Homo sapiens: one gene and its partners. The protein of the gene in region 1 interacts with the protein of each later gene in a biochemical or structural test. Each region holds a gene or a part of one and is shown in the gene's direction. Other genes may lie near its edges. The genes, in order: RGS16, GNAQ, GNA13 and CSK.

Region 1 (7,758 bases):
AGCTTTGTGGCCATAGGCAAGTTACTTAACCAATCTCTGTTTACTCAACGTAAACAGAGTTTACTCAAATGTAAAATGGGGAAAATATATTACTGATCTTATGAGTGTAATTGTGAGCATTGAAAGAGATACTTCAAGTCAAAGCACACAGAACAGAGCCTGGCACATAGTAAGTGTTCGATAAATGTTAGCTTTTATTATTTGTGTTGAAACAGAAGCCATCTACCCAGCCAACATTTATGGAACATATGCAGAACTGAGCATGGTGATAGGGGCTGAAGATAAAAAAAGATGACCAAGGCAATAGTCCCTGCCCTCCAGGAGTGCACAGAGGAAACAGACTGTACATTGATTCTATCAGTACAGGGCAACAGGGATGGCTCAAAGGAGGCCTGGCCAACTCTGCTTGCAGATGCGGGGAGGGAGGAGGAATTAGGGATGGTATGATAGAATAGAAGGCAGTTGAGCTAGGTCTCAAAAATAGGTAGAAAAGTCAAGAAAAGTCAATACCAATGTATGGTTCTAGGACTTAGGCTAGTGGTCACCTCTGTTTAGGGGAGAAATTTGCTGGAGCAGGCATGAGGAGTGATGGAAGCCATAGCTTGATTACATATTGGTTACATGGGTGTATACATTTGTCAAAACTCATTGAATTGTACTCTTAAGATTTGTGCATTTTATTATATGTAATTGTATCTCAATATATAAGTAAAATCAGTTTATTGAAAAATATTTTTTTAACTGAGTAGTACAGGAAGGGGAAGGACCTTCAGGCCAAGAGAATTTTATGCTCAAGGGTTTGTGGGTATAAGGCAGCATGATGCCCAGGATAATGTGCCAATTGCTGAGTTTGGCTGGAATTTAGGGTGTATAAAGGATATGAGACCAAGTGGTTAGAGCCTTAGATGCCTTACAGAGGAGTCTAGACGTCATCCTCCAAGTCTAGGTTTGGGAGAAGTGGGGAGGGAGGGAAAAGAAGAAACCAGAGAGGACTAATATAGCAGCAAAGCAAGCTGCATGCAATACCCTAAACAGTAATCATTAATCATAGTAAAAGTCATTTCCTACAACCAGGCTGAATTTGGTCAACTTCTCCTACCCAGGAGGAGAGGGTGCCCAAAGTTTTTGTCATGAACCAGTGGGGAAATGTCCCCAGTGATTGCCTATTTCACTTCTGCTGGAGATGATCACTGCCTCCTCATTCAGCTGCTTCAGGATACGCTCTTAAATCTAAAAGTGGCATCCAATTGTGTCCCACAACCCTAAGTGCTTCTGCAGCATTTAATAAATTCCTTAGTCTTTCTGCACCTTTGCTGTACCTGCAAATGATAAGAGCTTTTCCTGTTTCTTTCACTTTCATGCCTCCTCCTACTTCTTCTGCTTTTCACTGGCTACCATGGCTCCATCACTTCTTTTTCAATACTGTCAACCGTCTCTAATCAGCCTCTTCCCTTGACATCTGTTTCTGTGACAAACAATAGTTTCCTTTCACTTTCCCTGCTCCCCACCATGCAGTTCTATTTCCTTAGCTAGATTATAAGGTCCTTGAATTCAGGGAAGAGCCTTAAAAGCTATTGTTTTCCCACCAACTTGGGAATATAGTAAATTCATAAGAAATATGTATTTGTAGATTGATGATTGAATTTGGAGGACCTAAACCACTGTGAGGATCATCTGAGCTAAATCAGAAAAATGGAGGAAGAGTTCTCATTTCTGCTTACCATTATCAGTAGACAAAGATCCCCATCTAGACTTCTGCCTCCATGGAAAGGGTAGTGCTGGGGGCTGGGAGCTGAAGGAGATGAAAGGCAATATGGCTGGGATGCTGTGGGACATTTAATCTTGACTACGGCTTTGCCCAGACTGCTGACCCCAGATGACCCAGGGTGCAGAGCCGTGCCCCCATGCTGCCATCCATTAAAGAGATCACATCTGCTCTGGGAGTGCTGGGCAAAAATGAGGTCAGGTTTTGTCCAAGCCAGTGCAATTCATAAGTGAGCTCAACTTGCTGGATTTACAGCAACTGTCGAGTCATCCTGCATTACCGAAACTGCAGATATGAACCGACCTGCTGGGAAGATAATTTGGGATAAATTGTGAACTTCAAAAAGTTTCTGCCTGGAAACTGAAGAGGTAACCATGGCAACAAAGAGGCAGGTTGAACTTGGAGAGGGCCGTTCATCTAGAGTAGGGAGCTTTGTGCTCTCAGATTTGCTGGTCTGTGCACTGTGCATCAATGCCTTTGTTTTTTTTGCAATGGCGCGATCTCGGCTTACTGCAACCTCTACCTCCTGGGTTCAAGAGATTCTCCTGCCTCAGCCTCCCAAGTAGCTGGGATTACAGGCACCCACCACCATGCCTGGGTATGTTTTTGTATTTTTAGTAGCGACTGGGTTTCGCCATGTTGGCCAGGCTGGTCTCGAACTCCTGACCTCAGGTGATCTGCCCGCCTCAGCCTCCCAAAGTTCTGGGATTACAGGCGTGAGCCACTGCTCCTGGCACCGTTTATTTTGCTTTCTTTATCAGAGCAGGAGAAAGTACTAGCTCAGGAATTGGGAGATAGGATCCAATTTCCAGCTATTTCCTGTTCCAGTACACTTAACTAAGAGTGCCTCAGGTGTACTTAACTAAGAGTGCCTCAGTATACACTGCCTATACTGTATTCCAAGAGGCACAAAAGACTCACTAATTTTCCTTATTGCTAGCAATCCCAGTATCCCTATTAAGTAAAACTGAAAGCTATTATAACATTTATTGACTGCTGACTACATGTTGAGCACTGTCATATAAGCACCTTATATGTTGTCACGGATGCTGTGCGGTGCCACCCAGATCCCGTCTTGGGGACTGTGATCATCATTTCCCAGGGTGTTAGTCTCTCTCCAGGAATTGCTCTTGACAAAGGGCACTGCCTTAAGATTAGGCTGTCTTCTTGGGCAGCTGTATGCAATGAATGGTCTTTATGGGGTTACCAGGGCCTTGTCCTCTTGCTTCAGTGGACAGTTCCAAAGGGCCAGCTGAGCTTCCGGGCATTCCTTGGAACCAGCTGGGGTCTCTGTTGAAATGGCATGGCCTTCAACTCCTCCCTCTGCCCAGACCTGCTTTCTTTACTCCCTCTTAATTCTGATAACTCTCCCCAGTAAACCTCCTGCATGCAAGTGTCTACCCGAGTCTAGTTCCTAGGAACTCAAACTAAGAATTAATTTATTTAGTTCTCACAACCACCTTATGAAATAAGTTGTTCTCTTCGTAGAGACAAGGAAATGGAGGCATAGAAAGGTTAAGCAGTTTGCCTCGTCTCCCATCAGTAGCCAGTTAACAGTGAACGTGGCCTTCCTGCAGCTGGGTCTTCAGCAGGTCACCTGGCAGAGCCATGACTTGAAACCTGAAAATCTAACTCTAGACCCTGTACTTTTAACCTCACATACAGCCTCTTAATAGCAATCCCAATGCCTTTATGGGAAGATGAGGTGAGAGGAAGGGCATTTATTACCTTTATGTCAGAGATGGAGACAATAAGGTATTAACTGCTTAAACCCAGGATCGTCCACAGGTATAGCCGTGACCGGGTACTAACCTTTGTGTGTGTGTGTGGTGTGTGTGTGTGTGTGTGTGTGTGTGTGTGCAATGGAAAAAGAATGGCAAATTCACATTTGAATTTTGGAGCCAACACTTACTAGCTGCACATCTTTGAGCAAGTTATTTAATAACTAAGACTTTGAGCAAGTCTTACTTATGTGCCTAGCACATAGTAGGTGTTCAATAAACTACTCATCCCTATTCCACTTTTCTGTCATCTCCAACTGTGATCTTGGACAAGTTTATTTAGCTTTCTGATTCTCGATTTCTTCATCTATAAAATGGAGATGATGATGAAGAGCTTACTTAGCCCCGTGTCCATCATGGTAAGAGCCTCGTAAAGGGTACTTATCAGTATAATCAGATGCTGTTTTGCCCAGGTTTGCACCCTGTGCGCCTGTCCTCAGGACCCAGCAGGCTCAGACTTGCCTGCGATCAAAGAAAGCCCTGTGTGCCTCCCAGACCCACCACCCCCGTGCAAACTCTCTCAACACGACACCGCTGCGTGACTTTCCTGCTGTTACTAGAGGTCGGCAGGTACTTTTCCCTAGGAAACTGGGTGTGCACGTCTCATCCCCGTGCCAATTCTCTTGCCGCTTTTCCTTCCACACGCGGCGTCCTCTGGGCGGAGGGTGCAGCTCCGCGTGCTCCAGCTGCCGCGAAAGTTGCACCCGGCCCAGTCTGGCTGCGGGCCCCGCCTCCGCCTTCTCAGCGCCCAGCCCCACCCTCCGATTGGTCAGCAGTGCCCAGCCCCGCCCCGCTCCTCCGAGGGGATTTAAAGCAGCGGCCGCTCAGTCTGGGCGCTTGCAGGCTGCTAAACCCAACCGCAGTTGACTAGCACCTGCTACCGCGCCTTTGCTTCCTGGCGCACGCGGAGCCTCCTGGAGCCTGCCACCATCCTGCCTACTACGTGCTGCCCTGCGCCCGCAGCCATGTGCCGCACCCTGGCCGCCTTCCCCACCACCTGCCTGGAGAGGTAAGGGGAGGTTGTCCAACTGCTTGGGGGAAGTCCCACCAACTCTTAGGGAGTGGAGCGGCAGGCCTGGGGACCTGGGTGGGCGCGGGGATGGGGCGCTAGAGGCTTGAGTAGAGAGGTAGAAGCGCACTTGATGCCACGTGCTCAGATTCCAGGAGCAGGGAGAAAGCAAGGGGAAGGGAAGCAAGGGCCCGCGGCTTGCTGCCATCCCCATCCTCTGACAAACTGCAGTCGTGCTCAGGTGACCTGCTGAAGACCCGGCTGCGGGAAGGCCACGTTGACATTTCCAGGCAGCACTGAGCCTGCCCATTTCTTAAGCATTTGTTTTTCATTCCTCAGACCAGAGCTAGGGGCATTGCCTCCTCTGCCCCTGGAAGACAGGGAGATTTTTTTTTTTTTGGTGGGGTGTGTGGGGGTGGGGGCTCCCACTGTTGAGGGTGTGTCCATATTCCAGAGAGCTACTCAACAGCTTCCAATCCTTACTGGCTGGGAAGGAAAAAGTAAAGATGAAGGCAGGAATCAGTTTCCCACACAGTTCAGAAATACTTCTGAAAAGAATGCTGAGTTCTTTTCTGAATCAACAGGCACGAAGAGAGATCAGTGTGACTTTAGGGAAAAGCCCATATATGCAGCGTGTGTATTACCCAGAAAGTGTAAGACCTACCACAGCATAGCTCAAACATTGCTTTTGTTGCTTTGGGGTTGATGATGCTGATAAGAGAAGCACTCTTGGCCTGGGGACAGCCAAGAGTTTCCAGGAACTCTTGAGGCTAAAGTTTGGGTGGCACCACCCAGAGCTCTTCTGGGACCCATAAACCTCTCCACACTGGCTGAGCAAATGAGAGAATGCTTTCATGTTCCTGATTTGTTTTTCAGAGCCAAAGAGTTCAAGACACGTCTGGGGATCTTTCTTCACAAATCAGAGCTGGGCTGCGATACTGGGAGTACTGGCAAGTTCGAGTGGGGCAGTAAACACAGCAAAGAGAAGTAAGTGTTGCTGACCAGCTCAGGGCTCCGAGAGGGAAGGGAGTGGGAAGGGAGTCATGAGGAGGGAAATACAGGGAGAAGCCAGGACACGCTAAGTGGACCTTGGCAACACCTCCCTAGAGATTTTAGTGGGACTTGTTGCTGGTCTGTTATGACTACTTGGCTCATGGGTGAGTGGGTAGGTGGCTCCAGGGCTCCAAGTCCATCCACGGATGAGGGCACACAGGGCATGAATGCCTAGTTCCCAGACTCTCCCACCTCGGGATTCATTGCACGTGCATCCAGGGCTAGGACAGAATCCAAGACCACTTGAAGTTTTCTAGTATGCACCTTGCCTAGAAACTCTTTCATATTGGCTATCAACTGTACCAAACTCTGGAGTTATGTGTAGATGTAATCTCTATTTATGAGGACCTTATTTCCTTGGGAAGGTGTACAAAACAAATCTTTGAGAGTCAGGGGAATTGAAATAATTTTTGGACAGAGACGAGACAGGCTTAGAGATATTGACTGAGGACTAAAGAGTCCCTGGCTTTGATTTCTGGTTGCTGAATTGTGCTCTAGAAAGCACTACTGCTTACCCTAAGTCCAACTAAGAGTTTGAGGTGTCAGCTTCAGCAATCACCAAGCAAGCCTTTCTGTGAATTTTATGCAGTTTTCCATCAGAGTTCTGGCTAGAATTTGTACTATGCTTTGGTTTGTTGATTTTTTTTCTTACTCTTTTTTTTTCTTTTTGTCTTTTAGTAGAAACTTCTCAGAAGATGTGCTGGGGTGGAGAGAGTCGTTCGACCTGCTGCTGAGCAGTAAAAGTGAGTAGGAGCCTTTTGTGTCTGTCTCTGGGTGGCACATGTGTACTCATGTGCTTTGGAGCCAGCCCCAGGACTGCTGAGAGCCTGGGCAGAATAATAGTAGTAGTAATAATAATAATAATGATCCCCTAGTGTGCCAGCCTCTATTCAACATATAAAGGCAGGTCATTGTTCAAGAAAATTATGTTCTAAAAATAGAGCCATTAATTGCAATTGCTTTCCTTTCTTCTTGTATTCCCTGCTGTCCCTCCAGCTGACCTATTTCCTCTTCTTTCCCGCAACCCCAGATGGAGTGGCTGCCTTCCACGCTTTCCTGAAGACAGAGTTCAGTGAGGAGAACCTGGAGTTCTGGCTGGCCTGTGAGGAGTTCAAGAAGATCCGATCAGCTACCAAGCTGGCCTCCAGGGCACACCAGATCTTTGAGGAGTTCATTTGCAGTGAGGCCCCTAAAGAGGTTAGAGCCCCCATATGCCCAGTGAATCCTCACGACCCTGCCTGCTCCTTCCCCTCTGAGAATCAGGGCTAGAGGGGAGGAAGGGCTAGGTGTAGAGGTAGAAGGGCCTTACTTGGCACAGGGGTGACTGGGCTTCTGTGACCAGAGACTAGGAAAGCCAGGCCCAGTGCCACTCCTGGGTGCTTAACCCTAAGACTCATGATGGGGCAGGATGTGTTGGCAGGTTTTTCGGCTTCTGTCCATACCCACCTTTATAAACCCATCCGTTTTTAGAGGCTCAAAACACTTAGCAACTGGGGAGACAAGGTCAGCACAGGGACCTTATGTAACCTGGCTCAGTCCCCAGGCTGACCTGCCTGAGGCCTGCTGGTCTGTGGTCTGTGATTTTTTTGTCTACCTTCTCTCCTGGCCGCTAAACGCATGGCAGCTGCATTTGCTAAAGAACACAGCGCCACCTGGTGGAAAGATAAGAGTAATGCCTTACTTTTGTACCTTATTTTTGTTTTCTGACCGCTGATTGATTCCACATAATTCTGTAAAGGTGTATTGAGCCCCAATTATATTCAAGACACTGTTACAGTCACTGTGTATGTCACAGTGAGCCACACAAAGTCCCTTACCTAATGAAACTTATAATTTGAATGGGGGAAGATGCCAATAACCAACTAGACAAATATATGCCAGGTGATGAGCTATGCACTCATAAAAATACAGCAGGAAATGAGAGACAGGGAGTACCAGAGGTAGGGCCTGGGAAGACGTAAGGTTTTCCATTCTGTAAAGGGAAGTGAGGACATATGAACAGAGATAAGAAAGAATTCAGGGAGGGAAGAACATTCCAACACAGGAAGCAGCAAATGCAATGGCCAGAGCCTGCCTGTCACAGTCACGGATGAGCAAATGGACCTGTGTAGAGCAGGGCAAGAGCAGGAGATGAGGTCAGGCATGAGGAG
Region 2 (7,770 bases), on another chromosome or scaffold:
GAGTTAACGCACTACAGTGCACCATTGCTGCCCTTGCCCTGTGCAGCCTGCGTGTTGAAACTGATACAGTAGGAATTCTTGTTTGCCCTGTCTTTTAGTGACACAAAACATTGCATTCCTTAACAATGCTAAAAGTCATAGAAAAAGAAACTCATGGCTGGGCACAGTGGCGAGCGCCTGTAATCCCAGCACTTTGGGAGGCCGAGGCAGGCGGATCACGAGGTCAAGCGATCGAGACCATCCTGGTCAACATGGTGAAACCCCGTTTCTACTAAAAATATAAAAATTAGCTGGGCGTGGTGGCAGGCACCTGTAGTCCCAGCTTCTCGGGAGGCTGAGGCAGGAGAATTGCTTGAACCCGGGAGGCGGAGGTTGCAGTGAGCCAAGATCGCGCCACTGCACTCCAGCCTGGCAACAGAGCAAGACTCTGTCTAAAAAAAAAAGAAAAGAAACTCATCTGCTTTGAAATAGCAGATCAGAAAAAGGAACAATCCAGTAGTTTTGACCAATTGTGTATTAACTCTTATAGTCCCCTCTGTGTCTCCCTTTCATTTGGTTACCGTCCACCTCTGCCTCTCCTCTCTCTGGGGAGGAACACAATTTTGAAGTTAAGAGCCCACCACTGAAATCAGTCTATCAAGGTTGAGATCCCAGTTCTGACACTTCCTATTTGTAGAACTACCATCAAGTCACTTGATTTTTCTGGGCCTTACGACCAAACTCATAGGATTGTTTTGTGCACTGTAGTATATAACATATGTGTACGTTTAGCATGATGCCTGACACGTAGGACACTTATGAATACTCAGGAAATACTTCCTTTTTTGAAACTTCATAGCCCAATGAAGTCCCACCACCATTACTAATAGTAACCCAGTGTTAAGCTCTTTGTGCAGCACTTAGAATCTATAGCATCCACTTCACTACTCCTATGGCTCTGCATTATTTGCTTTGTTCTTAGAAAAGGATCTTACCCTCCCCAACTAGACTGTGAAATCCTGGACAACTAGACACCCAACCCATTCTGAGAAACACTTGAACACTTGGTGATTGGTAACAAAATGCATCCACATGTAGCCACTATGTAAAACAAGTGAGAGTCACGACTGCTGCCCTATAAGAGTCTATGTGGCCAGGTGTGGTGATTCACACCTGTAATCCCAGCACTTTGGGAGACTGAGGTGAGAGGATCACTTGAGCACAGGAGTTCAAGCCCAGCCTGGGCAATGTAACGAGACCTCTATCTATAAAAAATGAGGCAGGAGTTGGCAAGAGGTCAAGACTGCAATGAGCCATGATCCTGCCACTATACTCCTGCCTGGGTGATGGGAGACCCTGTCTCAAAAAAAAAAAAAAAAAAGTTTATTTATTTGGCAAGATAATCACATCTCTCCCTTATGGCCCACCACCTGGTTTTATGAATAAAGTTTTATTGAGACATAGCCACACCCATTCATTATACACTGTCTATGGCTGCTTTCACACCATAACAGCAGAATTGGATAATTGTGACAGAGATAGAATTGTTTGCAAAGCCTCAATTACTCTGTGGCCCTTTACAGAGAAAGTTTGCCAAGCCGTGGTCTAGATAGTTAAGAGCACAAGCTCTGAAAAGTTCCACTTTGCCACTCACTGTCTGTGTTGCCTCAGACAAATTTATTTAGCTACTCAGTTTATCCCTGGGCAAGAAAGAATTGAATGGAATCATACATATATCACATAGCAGAAACCCAAAAGTATCTACCATAGAGGTGATATAACAACAAGAGAAGAGACTATTTTTAAAATTACATTGTCAACATATGATATCCAGGATGGATATCATTCCACAGTGTTTTTGTACTTACTAAAAGCTTCCTCAGAAAAGTAATTACTTTAAAAACCAAGATTAAATTTAGCTTCATAGCTTTCTATGATGATACAAACACATCAGGGATGGAGGTTTAGTCATCTTTTCATCCCACATGGAATGTGGTACAGTCCTGGCTCATGAAAGGGAAATGTTACATGTTAAATGAATTGAAGTTCCCTTCTCAAATACATGTAAGATCCTGAAGGTTGGTGAATTGAAAATATAAACATTTGTGGATGTCACCAGATGTTAGAAATGGTACCTTTTGTTAGCATTGTGTTCATATCCTCTCTTCAAGTACATTTTCCTTTGTGCTTTGCTGTTCTTTGAAAAACACTTTCTCAGTCTAAACAGTGTTTTCTCTTTCACTCCTTTTAATTTGCACTAGCCCGGAAACAAATCATCAATGCCTGAGACTGCACTTCTCAGTGTTGCTCAGAAAACTATGGAAGGAAGTGACTGTGTGGGTAGTTAACTTGCTTTCCCACCTCAAGCTTCAAACACATCTACCTGAATACAGTAGGCATGAAACATCTGGCTTAGATCTAAACACGCTTGCCTGCCACACACACACACACACTCGAGGTTCTTCTTAATTTTTCTTGGAACTTGGTAAGAATCAGCGTGTGAGAAATTGCCACACCATACACAACACCCCATCTTGTGGGCTGGCACGTTTTCATGATGTGCTTGCATAAGGGAGGATGCAGAACAGATAGAGCATGGTGCCCACGGAGGTGAACCCTTCTGAGGGGTTCATTCAAACTTCTCAGATGCAGCATACCTAGCCACACTTCACAGTTGCTGATTTTTCCGCAATAAAAGACTTAGTTTGTGATCAGTGCTTGCAGTGCTGTTTTTTGATCTCTGCACCATCTTCCTAATCTCTTCACGTACCTCCTTTCTCCAATAATTTCCCCAGATTCCCCACCACTACAAGCATTTTCCTTCCAGCATGTGCCCATTGTGAATATTCTGAAATCTGAAGACTTTTTTTTTTTTTTTTTTTTTTTTTTACTGTTACCTTACCCCAGTATACATATAATGCACAGAGGAAACTTGGCCACAGAAAAAGAAAAAAGACATTGATTTTGTTATTACAAAGCCAGCGCAGCAGTCATTACGTGAAACTCCAAGCCCTTGTAAGATGAGCAAACACTGAAAAAATTGAGGCCCACTCTGCAGTGATGTTTTTGTAATAAGCATGTTTATAGTATTATAAATTTCACACTTCCACATTTCTATACTTACAAGGTCTTAATCATAATGAATGCCATTTCTGTATTTCTCTTCAAGAAAGGAAATTACCCTTTCCACATGGACTTGAATTGCAAGATTGTTCATAGAGACTGTGGAATTCTGCTCCTGCTGTGATGGCTGTAATGAGTTCTTTGTAGTGTATGTTTATTCAGATAACAATTTATGCTTAAAAACATAACACTTTTCAAGTACACTTCAGTGAACTTGGATCTAGTTCTTATATTCTGTAGGGTAAATAAAAAAGAAAAAAAAAAGGTATAGTCCCTTCCTTCCCAAATAGAGTAAGTACAAAATCATACAGAAGTTCATTCAGAAGCCAGAAATATAATGTTCTTTTTATGAAATGAGAGACTTCTCCAGCTCTGGTAATCTGTTACTTTCTGGTTTTGAATAGTTTTTATTACTTCTCTGGAGTTAATAGTACATTGAAAAAGATGGAACATTAATTATATATATATTTGCTTGTATATATACTTTACATATTGTTTTTAATTGTACTTTTTATCTATTAAATATGATGCCAGCCCTCTTAGTCATTAAAAAAATTGAATTCTGGGCACCTACATCAAAAATTCAACATTACTTTTTTAAATTGTACAAATGAGGATAGTCTATTTGTTTTTATAATTCTTTCCTCCCATCTTCTGGCATTATCAGATATAAGTTTATTGGAGTAATCTCCAATTTATAAAAAGGTTGGTTTGAGAATAATTCAAGTCAGCTGTCTGAAGCTCAGGGTGCATTTTGTTAGAAATGGTGGTCAAGCCCTCAATAGAGTTCTGCAAGATCTCTTTATCCCTACTAGTAGGTAACAAGAATATTGATGATAGAAAAAAACCTGCTGGGTGTGGTGGCTCACGCCTGTAATCTCAGCACTTTGGGAGGCCAAGGTGGGCGGATCCCTTGAGGCCAGGAGTTGAAGACCAGCCTGGTCAACATGGCAAAACCCTGTCTCTTCTCTTCTAAAAATACAAAAATTAGCTGGGCATGGTGGTGCACGCCTGTAGTCCCAGCTACCCACGAGGCTGAGGCAGGAGATTTCGCTTGAACCCAGGAGGTGGAGGTTGCAGTGAGCCAAGATCATGGCACTGCACTCCAGCCTGGGCAACACAGTGAAACTCTGTCTCAAGGAAAAAAAAAAGTTTCTTATTGCTTGGTATAGAACTAACTTGAAAAAATAGGAGGAAATGCATATATAAAGCAACACAAAGACAGATATATGATACGTATCCAATACTTGAAAGGTGATGGTGTTTTGATGTTATTTACAGTAAGTTTTAAGTTAATATATCTATCGGTACCTATTAAATACACTTTTAAAACAGCTTTATTGAGATTATTTATATACCATGTAATTCACTTATTTAAAGTGTACAATTCAGTGGGTTTTGATATAGTACTTTTTTTAATTATAAAATTTGCCATTTTAACATTTTTAAGTGCACAATTCATAAAAGGCATTAATTACACTCACAATACTGTGCAGCCATCACCAGTATTTTCAAAATATTTTCACCACCCCAATTAAGCAGCAACACCCCATTTCCTTCCTCCCCCTAACCCTTGGAAACCTCTAATCTACTTTCTGTCTTTATGAGTTTACCAATTCTAAGTACGTCATATGTGTGCAAGCATACAATATTTGTTATTTTATGTTGGGTTTATTTATTATAATGTTCTCACAGTTCATGCATATTACAGCATCTGTCAGAGCTTTACTCTTTTTTATGGCTGAATAATATTCTTTTTGTTTCTGATATTCTGATATTCTGTTTGGTTTGGTTTTGTTTCTCCATGTATCTGTTGATGGACACTTGGATTGTTTTCGCCTTTTAGCTGTTGTTAACAATGCTGCTATTAAAATTGATGTACATTGCTTCTTGCCCTTTTGACTAAGATCAAGTGTCTATCAGAGCCCCTGCTCTCAATTCCTTTAGATATATACATTGGAGTAGACTAGCAGGGTCGGTCATATGGTTATTCTATGTTTAGCTTTTTGAGGAACCACCAAACTGTTTTCACAGCAGCTGCACCTTTGTACATTCCCAACAGTGCACAAGAGTACAAATCTCTCCATATTTTCCCAAACCCTTGTTAATTTTATAGCCATGCTAGTAGATGTGGAGAGGTCTGTCACTGTGGTTTTGATATGCATTTTTCTAAATGATTACCATTATTGAGCATCTTTTCCTGTGCTTATTGACCATTTGTATATCTTCTTTAGAAAAATGTCTGTTCAAGTCTTTTGCCTATTTTTTAATTGGGTTTTTTGTTATTGAATTGTAGGAGCTCTTTATATATTCTGGACACTAAACGCCTATCAGATGACATGATTTGTAAATATTTTCTCCCATTCTATAGATTGGCTTTTCACTTTCTTAATAATGGCCTTGGCCAGGTGTGGTAGCTCATGCTTATAATCCCAGCACTTTGGGAGGCTGAAGTGGGAGGACTGCTTGAGGCCAGAAGTTCAAGACAACATAGTGATACCCCCATCTTTACAAAAAGTTTAAAAATTAGCCAGGCTTGGTGGCACCTATAGTTTCAGCTATTCAGGAGGCTGAGGCAAGAGGATCACTTGAACCCAGAAGGTTGAGGCTGCAGTGAGCCATGATCATTCCACTACACTGTAGCCTGGGTAGCAGAGCAAGACCCTGTCTCAAAAAAAAAAAAAAAAAAAAAGTCCTTAGATACATAAAGTTTTTAATTTTGATGAAGTCCAATTTATTTTTTCTTTTGTGAAAAATATGACCTGTGCTGTGGTGTCATATCTAAGAATCCATTGCAAAATTACATTTTTAGTTTATCTTGCTAGATATGTCACAATCCTTTTTCAAAGCATCTAGGAGAATTCTTGGTACATAAGAGACTCCTTCTTAAATCAATGTAAGAAAATATAGGTTGGGCACAGTGGCTCACACCTGTAATCCCAGCACTTTGGGAGGCCAAGGCGGGTGGATCACCTGAGATTAGGAGTTTGAGAACAGCCTGGCCAACATGGCAAAACCTTGTCTCTACTAAAAATATAAAAATTAGCCAAGCATGATGGCAGGCACCAGTAATCCCAGCTGCTCAGGAGGCTGAGGCAAGAGAATCGCTTGAACCTGGGAGGCAGAGGTTGCAGTGAGCTGAGATCTTATCACTGCACTCTTACCTGGGCAACAGAATGAGACTCCATCTCAAAAAAAAAAAAAGAAAAGAAAATATAAACCAATTGTTTTATCATCACACATGAACTGAATGCTACACAAATGTAGTGTGCTCAGAAATACCAGAAATCTATGGAAGTGAGACTGTTACAGAGGCCCATTGTAGATAGACCTGACCTTACAAACAGGTGTTCTAAGAGAGATGTCAGTCTGGAAGATGTAAAATGATCCATAATATTGGGTCGTTTGGAGGACAGATTGACAGGAGAGCCCGAGGCAGCTGTATCTTTGTGCACACTTATTATATAGCTGAAACAAGCATACTTAACTCAGTTGAACAGAAGTAAGCTATCACTCCCCTGATGAAGAGCCTACAGTGGCTCCCAATCACTCAGGGAATCAGAGTGAAGGCCAAGCTAAGAAATAAACTTAGCCTTGGCTTTCAAGTCATCTGTCTGCTTTCACCTATCCACATTTTGTGAATGGGTGGGTGCCTGGGTGGGTGGATGGATGGTCAGACATAGCAGTGTTAGGGAAAATGATTATAACAGATCAAATCTGCAGTGCAGATGTAGGCTTCATGAGCAATGACACAGTATTTATTGAACCAATGATGATTGAATACATTAGCAGATTAGGTAACAAAGTGTCCCTCTTGTCTCTTGGCCGAAAGGACCCCAGAGAGATGCCCAGGCAGCCCGAGAATTCATTCTGAAGATGTTCGTGGACCTGAACCCAGACAGTGACAAAATTATCTACTCCCACTTCACGTGCGCCACAGACACCGAGAATATCCGCTTTGTCTTTGCTGCCGTCAAGGACACCATCCTCCAGTTGAACCTGAAGGAGTACAATCTGGTCTAATTGTGCCTCCTAGACACCCGCCCTGCCCTTCCCTGGTGGGCTATTGAAGATACACAAGAGGGACTGTATTTCTGTGGAAAACAATTTGCATAATACTAATTTATTGCCGTCCTGGACTCTGTGTGAGCGTGTCCACAGAGTTTGTAGTAAATATTATGATTTTATTTAAACTATTCAGAGGAAAAACAGAGGATGCTGAAGTACAGTCCCAGCACATTTCCTCTCTATCTTTTTTTTAGGCAAAACCTTGTGACTCAGTGTATTTTAAATTCTCAGTCATGCACTCACAAAGATAAGACTTGTTTCTTTCTGTCTCTCTCTCTTTTTCTTTTCTATGGAGCAAAACAAAGCTGATTTCCCTTTTTTCTTCCCCCGCTAATTCATACCTCCCTCCTGATGTTTTTCCCAGGTTACAATGGCCTTTATCCTAGTTCCATTCTTGGTCAAGTTTTTCTCTCAAATGATACAGTCAGGACACATCGTTCGATTTAAGCCATCATCAGCTTAATTTAAGTTTGTAGTTTTTGCTGAAGGATTATATGTATTAATACTTACGGTTTTAAATGTGTTGCTTTGGATACACACATAGTTTCTTTTTTAATAGAATATACTGTCTTGTCTCACTTTGGACTGGGACAGTGGATG
Region 3 (7,800 bases), on another chromosome or scaffold:
ATTTCACATAAGTGGAACCTTATAATATGGGGCCTTTTGTTTCACTTTGCCTAGTATTTTCAAAGTTCATTCATGTTGCAGCATGTGTCAGCACCTCATTCCTTTTTATGGCTGAATAATTGCAATGTATAGATATGCGACATTTGGTTTATCCATTCGTTCATCGATGGACATTTGGACACCTTTTGGCTATTCCTTTTTTGTTGTTGTGGGTTTTTTTAACTTTTATTTTAGGTTTAGGAGTACATATGCAGGTTTGTTATACAGGTAAACTGCTCATCTCGAGTTTGGTGTACAGATTATTTAGTCACTCAGGTAATAAGTATAGTATGCGATATGTTTTTTGTTTTGTTTCGTTTTGTTTTGGTTTTTGAGACGGAGTTTCGCTCTTGCTGCCCAGGCTAGAGTGCAATGGCGTGATCTCGGCTCACTGCAACCTCCGCCTCCCAGGTTCAAACAATTCTCCTGTCTCAGCCTCCTGAGGAGCTGGGATTACAGGCGCGTGCCACCATGCCCGCCTAATTTTTGGTATTTTTAGTAGAGATGGGGTTTCATCATATTGGCCAGGCTGGTCTCAAACTCCTGACCTCAGGTGATCCGCCCGCCTCGGCCTCCGAAAAGTGCTGGGATTACAGGTGTGAACCACTGCACCCGACCAGGTATTTTTTTTTTAATCCTCTCCCTCCTCCTGCCTTCCACCCTCAAGTAGGTCCCAGTGTCTGTTGTTCCCCTCTTTGTGTCTTGTTTTTTAGAGATAGGGTCTCACTCTGTCACACAGACTTAGAGTTCAGTGGCATGATCATAGCTCACTGTAGCCTTGAGCTCCTGCATTTAAGCAATCTTCCTGCCTCAGCCTCCTGAGTAGCTAGAACTACAGCTATGTGCCACCACATCTGGCTATTTTTTTTTTTTTTTTTTTGAGACAGGGTCTGGCTCTGTTCCCCAGGCTGAAGTGCAGTGGTGCAATTTTGGCTCACTGCAGCCTCCGCTTCCTGGACTCAAGCGATTTTCCCACCTCAGCCTTCTGAGTAGCTAGGACCACAGGTGCACACCGCCTTCCCCTACTTTTTATATATTTTTTTGTAGACAGGGTTTCACCATGTTGCCCAGGCTGCTCTTAAACTCCTGGCTTAAGTGTTTGGATTACAGGCGTGAACCACTGCAGCCGGCTAATCTCTTGGCTACCATAAATGGTGCTGCCATGAACGTGGGTATACAAGTTTTTGTTTGAACACTGTTTTCAATTCTTTTTAGTATTTTGGGGGGTATACCCAGGATAAAATTACTGGGTCATATGGCAATTCTATGTTCACCTCTTTGAGAAACCACCAAGTCTCTAACTCATTTTTATGTTTACAATTTACAAGGTGTCTTGATCACCAGTTAGAAGAAGCTGGACAGCTGCAGCCAAACCCCTAGGTTGGACCCAAAGAGGTCTCTTTTTCTTTCTTTCATTCATTCATTCTTTTTCTTTTTTTTTTTTTTTGAGACAGAGAGTCTCACTCTGTCACCCATGCTGGAGTGCAGTGGCCTGATCTCGGCTCACTGCAACCTCCGCCTCCCACGTTCAAGCAATTCTCCTGCCTCAGCCTCCCGAGTAGCTGGGACTACAAGCGCCCACCACCACTCCCCACTAATTTTTGTATTTTTAGTAGAGATGAAGTTTCGCCATGTTGGCCAGGCTGGTCTCGAACTCCTGGGCTCAAGTCATCTGCCTGCATCAGCCTCCCAAAGTGCTGGGATTACAGGCATGAGCTACTGTGCCCGGCCTTCTTTTTCTTTCTTTCTTCCTTCCTCCTTCCTCCTTCTTCTTCTTCTTCCTTCATTTGACTTTCAGGTCAAAGAGGTCTCTTTTTAAAAACTACACTGACTAGAACAGCCAGACTTGATGTGAGCCAAGTTTGTTCCAAGGCAAGCTTACACGCAGGGCTTTAAACAGCTTTCTCTGCTGCTCTGCATGTCACGACATGAACTGGCTGGGCAGGAATACCTTCCTGCCTCCTAGGCATTCTTGGTTTTCCATTATATTACACACACTTCTGAAAAAAGATGTTAACTACCTAACTTACAAGTTTCTCTCCTCTTTGTTGGAGTTCAGATTAGCACCTGGGGTCAATGCAGAAACAGTGCTCGGGGACAGGTTCTATGCCCCAATCCTGGGAGAGGCGAGTCCTTGCATGGTTAGAGAACAGGGCCTCCCAAACACTAGATGAGATGATGGAAAAATTCTCCATCCAGGGCAGGCTTTTACCATATATTTTGCCTGACAGCACTGCTCAGTGATTCTGACTCTTATCAATCCACAGATATTGGAGGTGAGCCTACTCTACTTGTATATTGTAGGTTGTCCACCCTCTGGGCTTGCCAGAGCCACAGGAGATAATCCTACTACAGGCATTGTTTACTGCAGCCAATCTACTGAGTCGAGGCTTCTCGGTCATTAACCCAACCCCAGGGAGTAACTGATTAGTACCGATTTTAAAATTTAAACCTGTTCGGGAGTTTCTTGGAATGCTGACCTCTTACCTCCGCTCCCTTATACATACGAAGTTTCTGAGCCACAGGAGCCCAAAGCTACGTTGCATTGCCCAAAACAGGGACAGACCAAAGTGGCTTTTTCCACTTGAAACTAAATACTAAGAATGAAGAGGTCGGCTCTCGGGGGTCCCGGTTAAGCAGTTTCTCTGCCAACCCACAGCTGTCACTTGTGGCTTGTCTCCTGGCCTCCTTTCAGGTGTCCTGGCCTGAATCTGCTGTTAGGACAGAAAAAAAGTCCCTGGACGGGTCATATCCTCTGTAATCTGGCAGGAAAGCTAAAATTTGCGTGCTCCCATTCCTCGTTGTGTTTGTGTATCTGCTTCCTTGTTGGGAAGAGCCTACATCACAGTGTCCGGTGTAGGGGATTTTCACCATGACCTCACCCTCCTGCTGCCACTCGCTAATTCCGGCGCGGCCAAGCGTCCCTGAAGTCACATCACAGCCCAGGTGGAATGCACGAGTGAGCCATTAAATGCCCCTGGTAGCACGTCTCAAGTGAACATCAACTCCAGTTCTTTCCCCTCACAGAGAGCCCTGGTAGGGGTCTGAAAATGCCAGAAAGAGCTGGAAGTGGGGGTGGACGACGTCTGGTTACCGTTCTGGGATTCGGAGACTAGAAGGTCAAGGGAGTCACTTTAAGAAAACACACCAGGCCTGGGCCTGGTGGCTCTGTCTGGAATCCCCGCACTGTGGGAGGCCGAGGCTAGAGGATCGCTTGAGCTCAGGAGTTCGAGACCAGCCTGGGCAACATAGGGGGGAGCCCCTGTATCTAAAAATAAATACAAAAAATTTAGCCGGGTATGATGGCACACGCCTGTACTCCCAGCTACTCGGGAGGCTGAGGCGGAAGGATGGCTTGAACCTGGGAGGCGGAGGTTGCAGTGAGTCGAGATCGAGCCAATGCACTCCAGCCTGGGCGACAGGGTGAGACTCCGTCTCAAAAGAGAAAAAATAAAATGAAATAAAGAAAATGCACCAAAGGCCTGCCAGGCTCACGCCGGCTGTTCTGTTCGAATAACTTTCGAGTCCGTGGCCTCGAAATGGGTCGGGTGGGCGGTGACAGCGGGCAGCGGGCGCGCAACGCGGGAGAAAGGGAGGCTAAGTGGGAGCCCAAAGAACCGCGTCCGGGACCTGGTCTCCGGCCTCCCGGCCTTGGGGAAGGAGCCCTTCTGCCCACAAGTGGGCTCAGGCCATGAAAGGGAAACAGAAAGTCGGGCTCCCCAGCCTGGCCCACGTGACCGCGGTTCCTCAGCCCTCCCCGCGCGCCCGGCCGCGGCTGCGGGCGCGGGCACCCGAGCGACACATCGAGCTCGTGACTCGCCGCCCAGGGCGGGAGGCGGAGAAGCGGCCGCGGCGTGCGAGCGCGCCTCCGGGAGGCAGCGGGAGCGCGCACGCTCCGGGGCCACCGCCCCTCCGGGGCCGGGCCCGCCCTCCTTCCCTCCCTCCCTCCCCCGCTGTCCTGGCCCGCCCTGCCCGGCCCGCCCTGCGAGTCAGTTCGCTGGTTCCCTCCCTCCCTGGGCGCGCTCGGGCCGCCGCCGCGCTCCCCGCCCTCGAGCCTCGGTGCCGGAGCCGCCCGCCGCCGGAGGAGGAGGTGGAGGGAGCCGGAGGGGCCCGCCGAGGCGGCGGCGGCGGCGGCAAGATGGCGGACTTCCTGCCGTCGCGGTCCGTGCTGTCCGTGTGCTTCCCCGGCTGCCTGCTGACGAGTGGCGAGGCCGAGCAGCAACGCAAGTCCAAGGAGATCGACAAATGCCTGTCTCGGGAAAAGACCTATGTGAAGCGGCTGGTGAAGATCCTGCTGCTGGGCGCGGGCGAGAGCGGCAAGTCCACCTTCCTGAAGCAGATGCGGATCATCCACGGGCAGGACTTCGACCAGCGCGCGCGCGAGGAGTTCCGCCCCACCATCTACAGCAACGTGATCAAAGGTGCCGGGCCGGGAATGGGGGCCGGGGGTTAAGGGCAGGGGGGCTGGGGCGGCGGCGGGTGCGGGGCGGGGCACCGCCCTGGTCCGCTGTGTCGCTGGCGAAGGAACGGGCCCGGCGGGCGGGCTGGCGGGAAGGGGGCGCGCCCCGGCAACTGGCCCTGCCCGCCCGGGGTGCCCTCGCGCCCCAGGGCGAGAGGATGCTCGGGGTCGCCCTGCTCTCCCGCTTGTCTCCCCGGTGGGCGTCACGGCCATTCCCCCACCCCCCACCGCGTCCTGGTCTCTCCCCCTGCGAGAGGGAAGTGGGGCGAGCTGGGTGCTGCCTCGGGGTGTGGGCAGACCTCTCCTGTCCTCCCCGCTGCGGATGAGGCAGGAACACCAATAGCAGCCCTAGCCGCTTCACCCCCATCCCCTGCTCGGGCGATGTGGGCCGAACCTCGCTACCCTGGCTGGGTGACCCGAGTCACATGGGGTCGCATGCGCTCCCAACTCCCTGCTTCCTTGGCCGTCTCCTAAGCAAGCGAGTTCTGGAACCGTCGCAATAAGGGAACTTTTTGCCCGAGACTTCTTGTCAAGGGCGTAGGGTGACAGCCTCCTTTTGGGCGAGAATATGAAACTTGAGGAGTGTCAGGTTGACTGTACTGGAATCAGGAGAGAGTGGACCCATACAGTTAGCATGAAAATGTAGCATCTGTGCTTTTTCGCCCCAGTGTCACGGTCAGGTAGGATGTTTGCGTGTGATTTCTGTGCAACACGTTCCACTCTCCTTTTCGCTAAGTAACTGGGGGCTGGCAGGAAGGGAGTACCACTGCTTCTATTTAGATGAAATGTAGTAGTAAGAAGACTGGCCTAAAAGTCATGTGGATCCTGTACAGATGGAGACAATGAATGAGTGTTGAGTTAGATAATTGGCTCGGCTCTTTATTGACAGTAGTTTTAAAATTAAACTTTGTTCTTAAGTGAAAAATAAACAAGTTGTTTATTTCTGGGCATTCAAAGAAATCGAAAAGATGGTTTTTATTTTGTCATTTGAAAGATAATTAACACTCGTTTCTGCGTGTCAAGTATGTTCTATAGAAAAGGCATTTTGGCAAAATTTAGGTGCAGCGCCTGGTAACTCAGGTGCATCTGGATTTTATTTTATCTGGGGAGCAGTTTAGGAGTTTGCTACAGATTGCAGGTCTTTTTAAGTGGGATTTTTGTTCAGGAAGTACATAAGGGACTTCTGCATGTCACCCCCCCGCCCCCTCCCCGCCAACCGCCTCCCGAGCTTCCAGCGTTTGGGTAAAGGAAAACTGCCTGAAGAGCCAGGCATTATGGAGTAATGAATTAGAGAGAATCACTAGACCACAGCCAGCTCTAGCCCTAGTACCTCTGCAGTTAAACTATAAAGAACAGTTGTATTTATCCTGCTGTAATGTTTAGCTCAAAACTAATTAAGGTCTCTTTCAAGGCTGCAGACTCTGCCTTGACAGTCCTTAATTGAAGGTACCTTTGTAACCTGATGCAGCTGAACTTAAGGAATTATGTTAATGAATAGCATCAACATGTTAACTGACTGTGAGCCTGGTAAACACCTCGTTCTTAATGTACACTGAGTTGTAAGTGTGATCTACGTTGAGCATTGATTATGAGATGATGTAAGTCATCAGGAATCTAGTTTTTTCAAGTTGACATGAAATTTGACAGTAGAACAGTTTCTCAGGCTGGGCGTGGTGGCTCACTCCTGCAATCCCAGCACTTTGGGAGGCCAAAGTGGGAGGATGGCTTGAGCCCAGGAGTTCCAGACCAGCTGGGCTACATAGCCAGACCTCGTCTCTATTAAAAAACAAAAACAAAAAAACCCCACCCGTTTTTCAGTTATTCAGATGACTTCCTAATAGCCAAGTGACTGTTCAGATTGATCAAACTTAATAAAAGTAATAGATCAGTGATAGGAAAAATGAGTTTCAACTAACCTCTGTGAGTTGGAGTCCGACTTTGTATTATTTTGCAGTTGATCTTCCTCCCTTTTAGGGAAATTGAAGGCCATCCTGTAACTTAAACTGGATTGAAACTTGGGCTGGAAGAAGTTTTTAAATTTTGAATGTGTTGCTAGAAGACTCAATGTTGGGTTAGGGTGCCGAAGCAACAAACAGAACATGGAGCTATAGTAGTTGGTTCTTAGTGTTTCATAAATGAACATCTTTTAGGCTCATAAAACCTTGGTTGTGTCTGTTTTCTTCTGAGCTTGGACATTGTTGGTCTGTGCAGCATAACTTCTTTTTCTTTCTTGAGTTAGATTGTTTTTTGACTACCTTCTATCCTAGAAGTTATTTTATAAATTGGAACATGTTAAAAATCCTTCAGAGAGAGGAATTGTGCTAATAGTATTTGCTTTTCAAGGCTCTAATTTTAAGACAGTGAGCAACTGTTATTTTTTTTAACCTCTGAGAAGTTACATTTGTTTTCGATGTTGGTCTTCATTTTTGAAGAAGGTTTGTCTAGGTTAATTCAGAAGTATAAGGAAATAATACTGGAATAAAAACTTATGATAATATGTAATGACTCCTCTCCATACATTTTTTTTCTTCTTTTTAAACAAAGGTATGAGGGTGCTGGTTGATGCTCGAGAGAAGCTTCATATTCCCTGGGGAGACAACTCAAACCAACAACATGGAGATAAGATGATGTCGTTTGATACCCGGGCCCCCATGGCAGCCCAAGGAATGGTGGAAACAAGGGTTTTCTTACAATATCTTCCTGCTATAAGAGCATTATGGGCAGACAGCGGCATACAGAATGCCTATGACCGGCGTCGAGAATTTCAACTGGTAAGAGATTTGCTCTTTTAAAACGTGTGGTTTTATTTTAATGATGTTTAGTAATACAGGTTGCACATCCCTAATGCGAAAATTCGAAATGTTCCCAAATCTAAAAGTATTTGAGATGGAGGAACAGACTGAAAGGCTAAGGCACAGACCTAATGTGTCCTAGTCTCTAATGACTACGTGTAAAAATAGTGTATAAAATTACCTTTAGGCTACATATCTTAAGGTATATATGAAACATAAATGAATTTCTAGTTTAGACTTGAGTCCCATTCCCAGCATATCTCATATGTATGCAGATATTTCAAAAATCTGAAAAAATTCAAAATCCAAAACACTTCTGGTCCCAGGCATTCGGATAAGGGACACTCAACCTGTATCTGATTTTAGCACACTTTTTTCACTGACTTCCATAATTTAATGTATCTATCCAAAATTATAGCCTCAGAAATTTGTTTTTTTGTTTTTGGGGGGTTTGTTTTGAGACGGAGTCTCTGTTGCCCAGGCTGGAGTGCAGTGGTGTGATCTTGGCCC
Region 4 (7,770 bases), on another chromosome or scaffold:
CCTGTGGGATGGGACTTGGAAGCTGTGTCTGTTCTGCTCCCCTGGCAACTTTTTCTTCAATGACTTGAGCTGGTGTTTTGCCATTTTCCATACTCTATCATGGGGAGTGTTCAGTATCGGCATCTAGAGATCTCCCCTGGCCCCATCACAGCTAGAGCTATGCTGTCCCCTTTCAGGGACATCTTGTAATTTATCCACCCAGCCCCCAACTGATGGACATAAAGGCTGTCTCCCCATCATCTCCTGCTACTACAGACAGCACTGCAGGGACTGTCCTGCTGTGTTTTTTTAAGGCATGGGTACTCCAGAAGCAGTTGCTCAGCTGCACCCCCAAGGTTGAGTGGAAGTCCCTCGGTAAAGGAGGAGGAGAGAGTGTGAAGGGAATGGCAAGGCGGGGAGGGAGACAGGGCACAGGTGTCCTGGCAACAGCAGATGGGAAACAGGTCTGGCTAAGGTACCAGAAGCCAACAAGTCCCAGAAAGGTCAAGTGACTTTCCCAAGGTCACACAGCAAGTTGATGGCAGAGCTGGGTACAGGACTCAGAGCATCTGACACCCAGGACGATGTTCCTGCACTGTTCCATAGAGTAGCCCGACTCTTAAGTTTAAATAACCCCAGGAAGGACCCCCTCTCTGTGCCTGACCCCCGCTGGGTTGTAGAGGCCTAAGTTTGCAGTAGCTCCTCCCAGCCACTCTGGCTGTCAGCCTCTGACCTGCAGTGGGAGGGTCTCACCTTCTGGAGATGTTTTAAGGAGGGGACCCCGGCCTAGGCACTAGCTGGGAAGCCACTGAGCCATCTTGTCTGCGGCCACTGACGTCAGTGCTTGGGCACAATGCCAGCCTGTTCCCGGGACCCCAGCACAAGGGCTACTGGGAGCCGGGTTTGGGGCAGGAAGTCAGCGTGAAGCACTGGTCCTGCCACATCCCAAGCCCCTTGTCCCCTAGCTCTGTGGGGGTGGGGTGACAGCTGCTATCGCTTTGGGGTTAACTATAGTCCCTTTGGGGTTAACTATAGTCCCATTGGTTATGGGACCTCAGTGTGATGTAGCCAGGCTGGATTCCCCCTTTTGTTTGTTCATTTATTCATTCATTCAGGGGTCTCATGACCCCACCAGGGAGGAGCCGTCCAAGAGAGTTAGCAGCTCCCACTTGCAAGATGTCTGTGGCAAGGCAGGCACTGTTCTGGTGCTGAGAGCTCAACTCCAGTCCTCACAGCAGCCCCCAGAGCCAAGGAGTATCACCAGTCCATTGCACAGATGGGGAAGCTGGGTTCTAGAGTCACAGCCAGCAGAGTAAAGGTGATGAGTTTAGCCCTCTTCCCTGTTTCCAGACCCTCTGAGGCCTTCAGAGCCCAGCTCCTTGAGGCAGCCCACCCCGACCGCTCCTAGGCTTACCCTTCCCTGAGCACCGCCCCTGTGCCCCTCATAGCTGCTTCTGCCTCCTCCCTCCTCCCTCCTCTCCCTTGCCCCTAGGCTAGTGTGGTCCCCATGGCAACTCCTGGGGCCTGTCCGGCAGGGAGGCACGGGGCTATGGGGAGGGCTGGCTCAGCAGCTCAGGAGTTTGACACCTGAGGGGGACAGAATGCTCACTCAAGGTGTGGCCCTAGGGACCCCCGCCTTGCCCCTGTGGGCCTCACTTGGGGTTCTCATCTGCAAAATGGGGATAATAATAGCTTCTCTGTCTCAGAGTTGTTAGAGGATGTGATGAGCCATAACGTGCCAAGGACAGGGCCTGGCACAGAATAAGTGCTCAGAAAACAGGGCCTGTTATTATTTTTATTATTATAATCAAGGCAGTGGGGAGGCGGCGGTGGCAGTAGCTGTAGGCCAGGAAGGGAGTGTTTGCAAACTGACAGCTGGAAGGGTGACTAACAGCGCAGCAGCCTCCGCGCCCCCCTGTGGTGGCAGGGAGTTTGGGGAGGAAGGGGGAGGCATGGGGATGTGGAATGCTAGCAGGGCCCCTATTCAGAAGGACCTAAAGGTTGGGGGCCCAGCCAGCCCTAGTGGGACCCTAATTCAAGCTCTGTCACCCCTAACTAGCTATGTGACTTCAGGCAAATTGTTCAACCAGTTGAGCCTCAGTTTCCGCTTCTGTGAAATGGGGGTAAGAGGGTTAGAAGAGCTCACAATCCTCCTTCCCTCCCCGCCACCCCCACCCCCACAGCTTACAGTCCACAGGAGGCAGGGGCAAGGGGTCCTCACCACCCCCACCCTCACAGCTTACAGTCCACAGGAGGCAGGGGCAAGGGGTCCCCGCCACCCCCACCCTCACAGCTTACAGTCCACAGGAGGCAGGGGCAAGGGGTCCCCGCCACCCCCACCCCCACAGCTTACAGTCCACAGGAGGCAGGGGTAAGGGGTCCCCGCCACCCCCACCCCCACAGCTTACAGTCCACAGGAGGCAGGGGCAAGGGGTCCCCGCCACCCCCACCCTCACAGCTTACAGTCCACAGGAGGCAGGGGCAAGGGATGGTTCCTGTACTTAGTGGTGACTGAGTCATGTGGATGGAGGCAGGTTTCAGGCTCATCCTCCTTGGGCCTCAGTGTCCCTGCCTAAACAGCAGGATTGATGGCCTGGCCTCTGGGGATAGAAAGGGCCCTGTATTCTGGGAGGAACGGAAGCTCTTTCATCCAGGGGATGGGGCAGGGGCGCACCAGACATTTCCAAGTTCAGGGTTTCATTCCAGCCCCTCCTCAGCCAGCTTGCAGGAGATACCTGTCCTCCCCTTCAGGGTAAGCAAGACTTAGAAGGGTTGAGTCACTCACCCCAAGTCGCACAGTCAACAGAGCCAGGTATTAAGCCCAGGCCTGACTATAGAGCCAGGTGTGCGGCCTGGAAGTGTTGGTTCTCCCTGGCCGTCTCCTCCCCAGCTCCTTCTGCTCTCCATGATCACATGCCCCCCTGCTGAGGCCCCATCGCCCTTGGAGTCAAACCCTGGTTCCTCACATTGGCAGTGGAAGTCCCCCTGCTGCCTGGCAGAGTTTATGCCAGGCCCACTTGAAACCATCCCCTACAGTGTCCCCTGAGCAGCGGTGCTCAAGGTGGACTCTGGAAGTGTGTGGGGTCCTAGAGCCCCAGATGGGCAGGGTCTGCCTTCCCGCTTCCCTCACCATCGGCTTCCACCTGGGCCAGTTTCTCATACTATGCCAGTCCCCTGCCTGACACCTTTGCTCAGACTGCTGCATCAACCTGGGGTGCCTTCCCTGGCCCGCCCTCTGCCTGTGTAAGCCCTGCAATCTTCAGGGCTCAGCCCCAGAGCTCCCTCCTCCAGGGAGCCTGTCTGAGCTCTGCAGTCCGTGCCTACTTCACACCCCCAGCACTTTGCACTAAAATGTCTTCTCCCGCGCCACTGCACTCCAGCCTGGGCAACAGAGCAAGACTCCGTCGCAATAATAACAATAATAATAAAATAAAATGTCTCCTTCCACTGGGGTAGGTAGCAATATTTGTGACTGTCAGCCTAGCCCCCAGACCTCATCCACTGTATCAAAGAGCCCAGCAAAGAGGCTCATGGAGGAGTTTCTCTTCTAACACACTGTGACCACGAAGATGCCACTGGCCCTTTCTCACCCTCAGTTTCCTCACCCGTAGAAAGGAAACAGTAGTTCCAGCCCCTCTGCTTCCTGAGACAGGTCCAAGGGGGCTCTGGGCTGGGATTACAAAGTATGTGTGTGCAGACGGGTGGGTTGCTGCTCTCAGGGAATGGGGTTGGCTAGGGTAGCTTTTTTGGGGAGTCAACTTTATTGAAGTAAATATACGGTTGACCCTTGAACAACACAGGGGTTGAGGGCATCAACCTCCTCCCTGCAGTCAAAAAATCATATATTAACTTTTGACTCCTCAAAAACTTAACTACTAATAGCCTATTGTTGTCAGAAAGCCTTGTAGATAAAGTTGATTGACACTCATTTTGTTTGTTATATATATTATATACTGTATTCTTACAATAAAGTAAGCTAGTGAAAATAAAATAAGAAAATCATATGGCCGGGTGCAGTGGCTCACACCTGTAATCTCAGCACATTGGGAGGCTGGGGCAGGCGGATCACTTGAGGCCAGGAGTTCAAGACCAGCATGGCCAATATGGTGAAACCCTGTATCTACTAAAAATACAAAAATTGGTCTGCTGTGTTGGCGCACGCCTATGATCCCAGCTACTCAGGTGGTCAAGGCATGAGAATCACTTGAACCTGGGAGGCGGAGGTAGTTGCAGTAAGCCGTGAGTCACCCCACCACTGCGTTCCAGCCTGGGCGACAGAGTCTTGCTGTCTCAAAAAAAAAAAGAAAGAAAATCATAAGGAAGAGGAAATATATCTACTATTCTTTAAGTCGAAGGGGATCATTATGAAGGTCTTCATCCTTCACATTGAGTAGGCTGAGGAGGAAGAGGAAGAGTTGGTCTTGCCGTCACAGAGGTGGCAGAGGTGGAGGCGGAGGAGGTGGAAAGGAAGGCAGAAAAGGCAGGCACACTCAGTGTAACTTACTGAAAAACATCCAGCCACGTGTGGTGGCGCATGCCTGTGGTAATCGCTACTTAGGAGGCTGAGGCAGGAGGATTGGCTGAACCCAGGGGTTTGAGGCTGCTGTGAGCTATGATCACGTCACTGCACTCCTGCCTGGGCAACAGAGTGAGACCCTTTCTCAAAAAAAAAAAAAAAAGAAAAGAAAAAGAAAAAATCCATGTGTAACTGGACCTGCGCAGTTCAGACCCGAGTTGTTCAAGTGTGCACTATACACCAAAAAGTGTGCCGATCGCAATGGTACAGCTCAGTGAATTGTCACAGAGTGGACCCACTTCATGATTGGGCTCAGACAGTCTGAAAACCAACCCCAGAGGTCCCCTTGCATTCCTTCCAGTCTCCCTGTCCCAAGAGCAGCTATCCTGACAGCATGGATTAGTTTGGCCAGATTTTGAACTTTATTCAAATGGAATTACATAATATGTACTTTCCTGTGTCTGGCTTCTTGGTTAACATTTTATTTATTTATTTATTTATTCATTCATTTAGAGGCAGGGTCTCACTCTGTCGCCCAGGCTGGAGTGCAGTGGTGTGACCTTGGCTCACTGTAGCCTTGACCTCCCCAGGCTCAAGCGATCCTCCCACCTCAGCCTCCTGAGTAGCTGGGAGTACAAGCACGCAGTACCACCCCCGGCTAATTTTTGTATCTTTAGTAGAGACCGGGTTTCGCCATGTTGCCGAGACTGGTCTTGAACTCCTCCTGGGTTTAAGCCATCTGTCTGCCTCAGCTTCCCAAAGTGCTGAGATTACAGGTGTGAGCCACTGTGCCTAGCCATCATTATGTTTTGAAATTTATCGGGATTGGCCAGGCACGGTGACTGGCACCTGTAATCCCAGCATTTTGGGAGGCCGAGGTGGGTGGATCACCTGAGGTCAGGAGTTCGAGACCAGCCTGGCCAACATGGTGAAACCCCATCTCTACTGAAAATACAAAAATTAGCTGGTTGTGGTGGTGCATGCCTGTAATCCCAGCTACTCAGGAGGTGGAGGTTGCAATGAGCCGAGATTGTGCTACTGCACTCCAGCCTGGGTGACAGAGCCAGACTCCATCTCAAAAAAAGAAAAGAAAAGAAATTCATCAGTGTTATTTAATGGTTGGAGTTTGTGTTGGAGTTTATTTAATGGTTGGTGTTTACTGCTGTACGTAGTCCCTTTTGTGAATATGCCACTGTTTATCCATTTTCCTCTGGATCGGCATCTGGGCAGCTCCCAGTTTGAGGTTTATTACAAAGCATGCCACTTGTAGCCCTCCTGTGCCTGTCTAGGCAGACACATGTCCTGTGTCCTCTCGGTGTGTACCTAGAAGTGGGGTTGGTATATGTTTAGAGATGCTACCTGGGCGGGATTTTGCAGGTGAAGGACCCAAGGACCCACAGAGCATAAGGGACTTTCTCAGATCACATAGCCCCTTCTCAGAGCTGCTCCGGGGCCCCTTTCCCCACAGAACAGTAGCTGGAACCAGGCCTGGGGCTGACGGTCAGGTGTCCATTGTCCCACTAGCCCCCTTTGCTCCTTTCTATCAGTCCTGGAAGGCCCCCTGTGGCCTTAGGGTTGGTGGCTCCCTCTGCCCCTGGGGGTCCTCAGCCCTCATGCTCCTCTACCCAGTACCGTCAGCCTGCCAGGACTGGAGAGAATGGCCCATGTGTCAAATCCCAGCGCAGGACACTCTTGGCACCTGTTCATGCCCAGTGAGGAGCCAGATCTCAGCAGTTGGGGGGCATTTCTTCACACCCCTCCTCAGTCTTCATGCTCTTCCCCACAGCTCTAATGGTACCAAGTGACAGGTTGGCTTTACTGTGACTCGGGGACGCCAGAGCTCCTGAGAAGATGTCAGCAATACAGGTACCACAGGGGTGAGGGTCTGGGACATGCAAGCATTCCCACCAGCCCCAGCGGGGTGCTTAGCAGAGGAGAGAGGATGCAGCTTAGATCAACCCACTCCCCTTTTTCCCAGCACTCAGTCAGGTACAGGCCTGGGGAAGTGGGGGAGTCTCAACAGGAAGGGACCCAGGGCTCGTTCTCCGGGCAGAGCACCTCACCCAGGCTCACAGAGGCCAGCTCAGAGGCTGTGACCACGAGGGTGCGCCAGCAGGTGGCTGGAGGGGGCCCAGGCTGCACCCGCCCACGTGTCACCTGCCTTGCAGGCCGCCTGGCCATCCGGTACAGAATGTATTGCCAAGTACAACTTCCACGGCACTGCCGAGCAGGACCTGCCCTTCTGCAAAGGAGACGTGCTCACCATTGTGGCCGTCACCAAGGTAATCAGGTGACGCCCACCCCACCATCCCACTGCTGGGCCTTCCCTCTGCAGGGGGAGGTGGGCCTGAGAGCATGTCTGGGCTGCCCTCTCCCCAGGACCCCAACTGGTACAAAGCCAAAAACAAGGTGGGCCGTGAGGGCATCATCCCAGCCAACTACGTCCAGAAGCGGGAGGGCGTGAAGGCGGGTACCAAACTCAGCCTCATGCCGTGAGTACCACGAGGAGGGGTTGGGGAGGGAAGGGGCCTTGGTCCTCCTGAAGGAGCATCAGGAGCAAGCAGGGAGGCCAGAGTGAGGGGCTTGGGTGTTGGGGAGGGCCTCAGGAGGAGGTGCAGGGTGCGGGTGCGGGACCTCACAGAGCAGGGCTGGGGGCAGAGGCAGGAGGGTGGCAAAGAAGGGACAGGGAGCAGAAGAAGAGGGCCTCAAATGCCTGACTGAGCGAGTGCGAGCCACGGGTGCCAAGCAGAGGGAACCCCTTCAGAAAGGGGAGCCAGGGTCAGTACCTTTGGGCCACCATGACCTCCAGCCCTGCTGCTCCCCAGTTGGTTCCACGGCAAGATCACACGGGAGCAGGCTGAGCGGCTTCTGTACCCGCCGGAGACAGGCCTGTTCCTGGTGCGGGAGAGCACCAACTACCCCGGAGACTACACGCTGTGCGTGAGCTGCGACGGCAAGGTGGAGCACTACCGCATCATGTACCATGCCAGCAAGCTCAGCATCGACGAGGAGGTGTACTTTGAGAACCTCATGCAGCTGGTGGAGGTGAGCTGGGGGGTACAGAGCCTTGCTCCCACCCTCACACACCCTAAACCCATCTGGGGCCCTGGCTTCTAGCTCCAGCCCCACTGCTTCTGCGTGGTGACCAGCCATGTGGGGCAACTTCTGTGAGCCCTTGTTTCCTCACACCTTGGTGGAGCAGCTGCTGCGTGCCAGGACTCACCTCTGACCCCACAGTGCCACCATGAGGAGGGGAGCCTTATCCTCATTTTATA

What was found.
Region 2: the proteins of RGS16 (region 1) and GNAQ form a complex in vitro, tested with the Homo sapiens proteins (one study listed by BioGRID).
Region 3: the proteins of RGS16 (region 1) and GNA13 form a complex in vitro, tested with the Homo sapiens proteins (one study listed by BioGRID).
Region 4: of the proteins of RGS16 (region 1) and CSK, one has a biochemical effect on the other in vitro, tested with the Homo sapiens proteins (one study listed by BioGRID).

Annotation. Positions count from the first base shown.
Region 1 is NC_000001.11:182,601,013-182,608,770, reverse strand, and holds the start of RGS16 (regulator of G-protein signaling 16), read left to right. Parts: upstream 1-4,381; 5' UTR 4,382-4,511; coding exon 4,512-4,555; intron 4,556-5,431; coding exon 5,432-5,542; intron 5,543-6,286; coding exon 6,287-6,351; intron 6,352-6,638; coding exon 6,639-6,805; intron 6,806-7,758. UniProt on the Homo sapiens protein: Regulates G protein-coupled receptor signaling cascades. Inhibits signal transduction by increasing the GTPase activity of G protein alpha subunits, thereby driving them into their inactive GDP-bound form.
Region 2 is NC_000009.12:77,720,678-77,728,447, reverse strand, and holds part of GNAQ (guanine nucleotide-binding protein G(q) subunit alpha), read left to right. Parts: intron 1-6,934; coding exon 6,935-7,125; 3' UTR 7,126-7,770.
Region 3 is NC_000017.11:65,052,971-65,060,770, reverse strand, and holds the start of GNA13 (guanine nucleotide-binding protein subunit alpha-13), read left to right. Parts: upstream 1-4,030; 5' UTR 4,031-4,177; coding exon 4,178-4,460; intron 4,461-4,996; exon of another isoform or gene 4,997-5,178; intron 5,179-7,042; coding exon 7,043-7,269; intron 7,270-7,800. UniProt on the Homo sapiens protein: Guanine nucleotide-binding proteins (G proteins) are involved as modulators or transducers in various transmembrane signaling systems.
Region 4 is NC_000015.10:74,791,952-74,799,721, forward strand, and holds part of CSK (tyrosine-protein kinase CSK), read left to right. Parts: intron 1-1,094; exon of another isoform or gene 1,095-1,297; intron 1,298-6,260; exon of another isoform or gene 6,261-6,281; 5' UTR 6,282-6,346; coding exon 6,347-6,361; intron 6,362-6,663; coding exon 6,664-6,777; intron 6,778-6,874; coding exon 6,875-6,987; intron 6,988-7,320; coding exon 7,321-7,540; intron 7,541-7,770. UniProt on the Homo sapiens protein: Non-receptor tyrosine-protein kinase that plays an important role in the regulation of cell growth, differentiation, migration and immune response.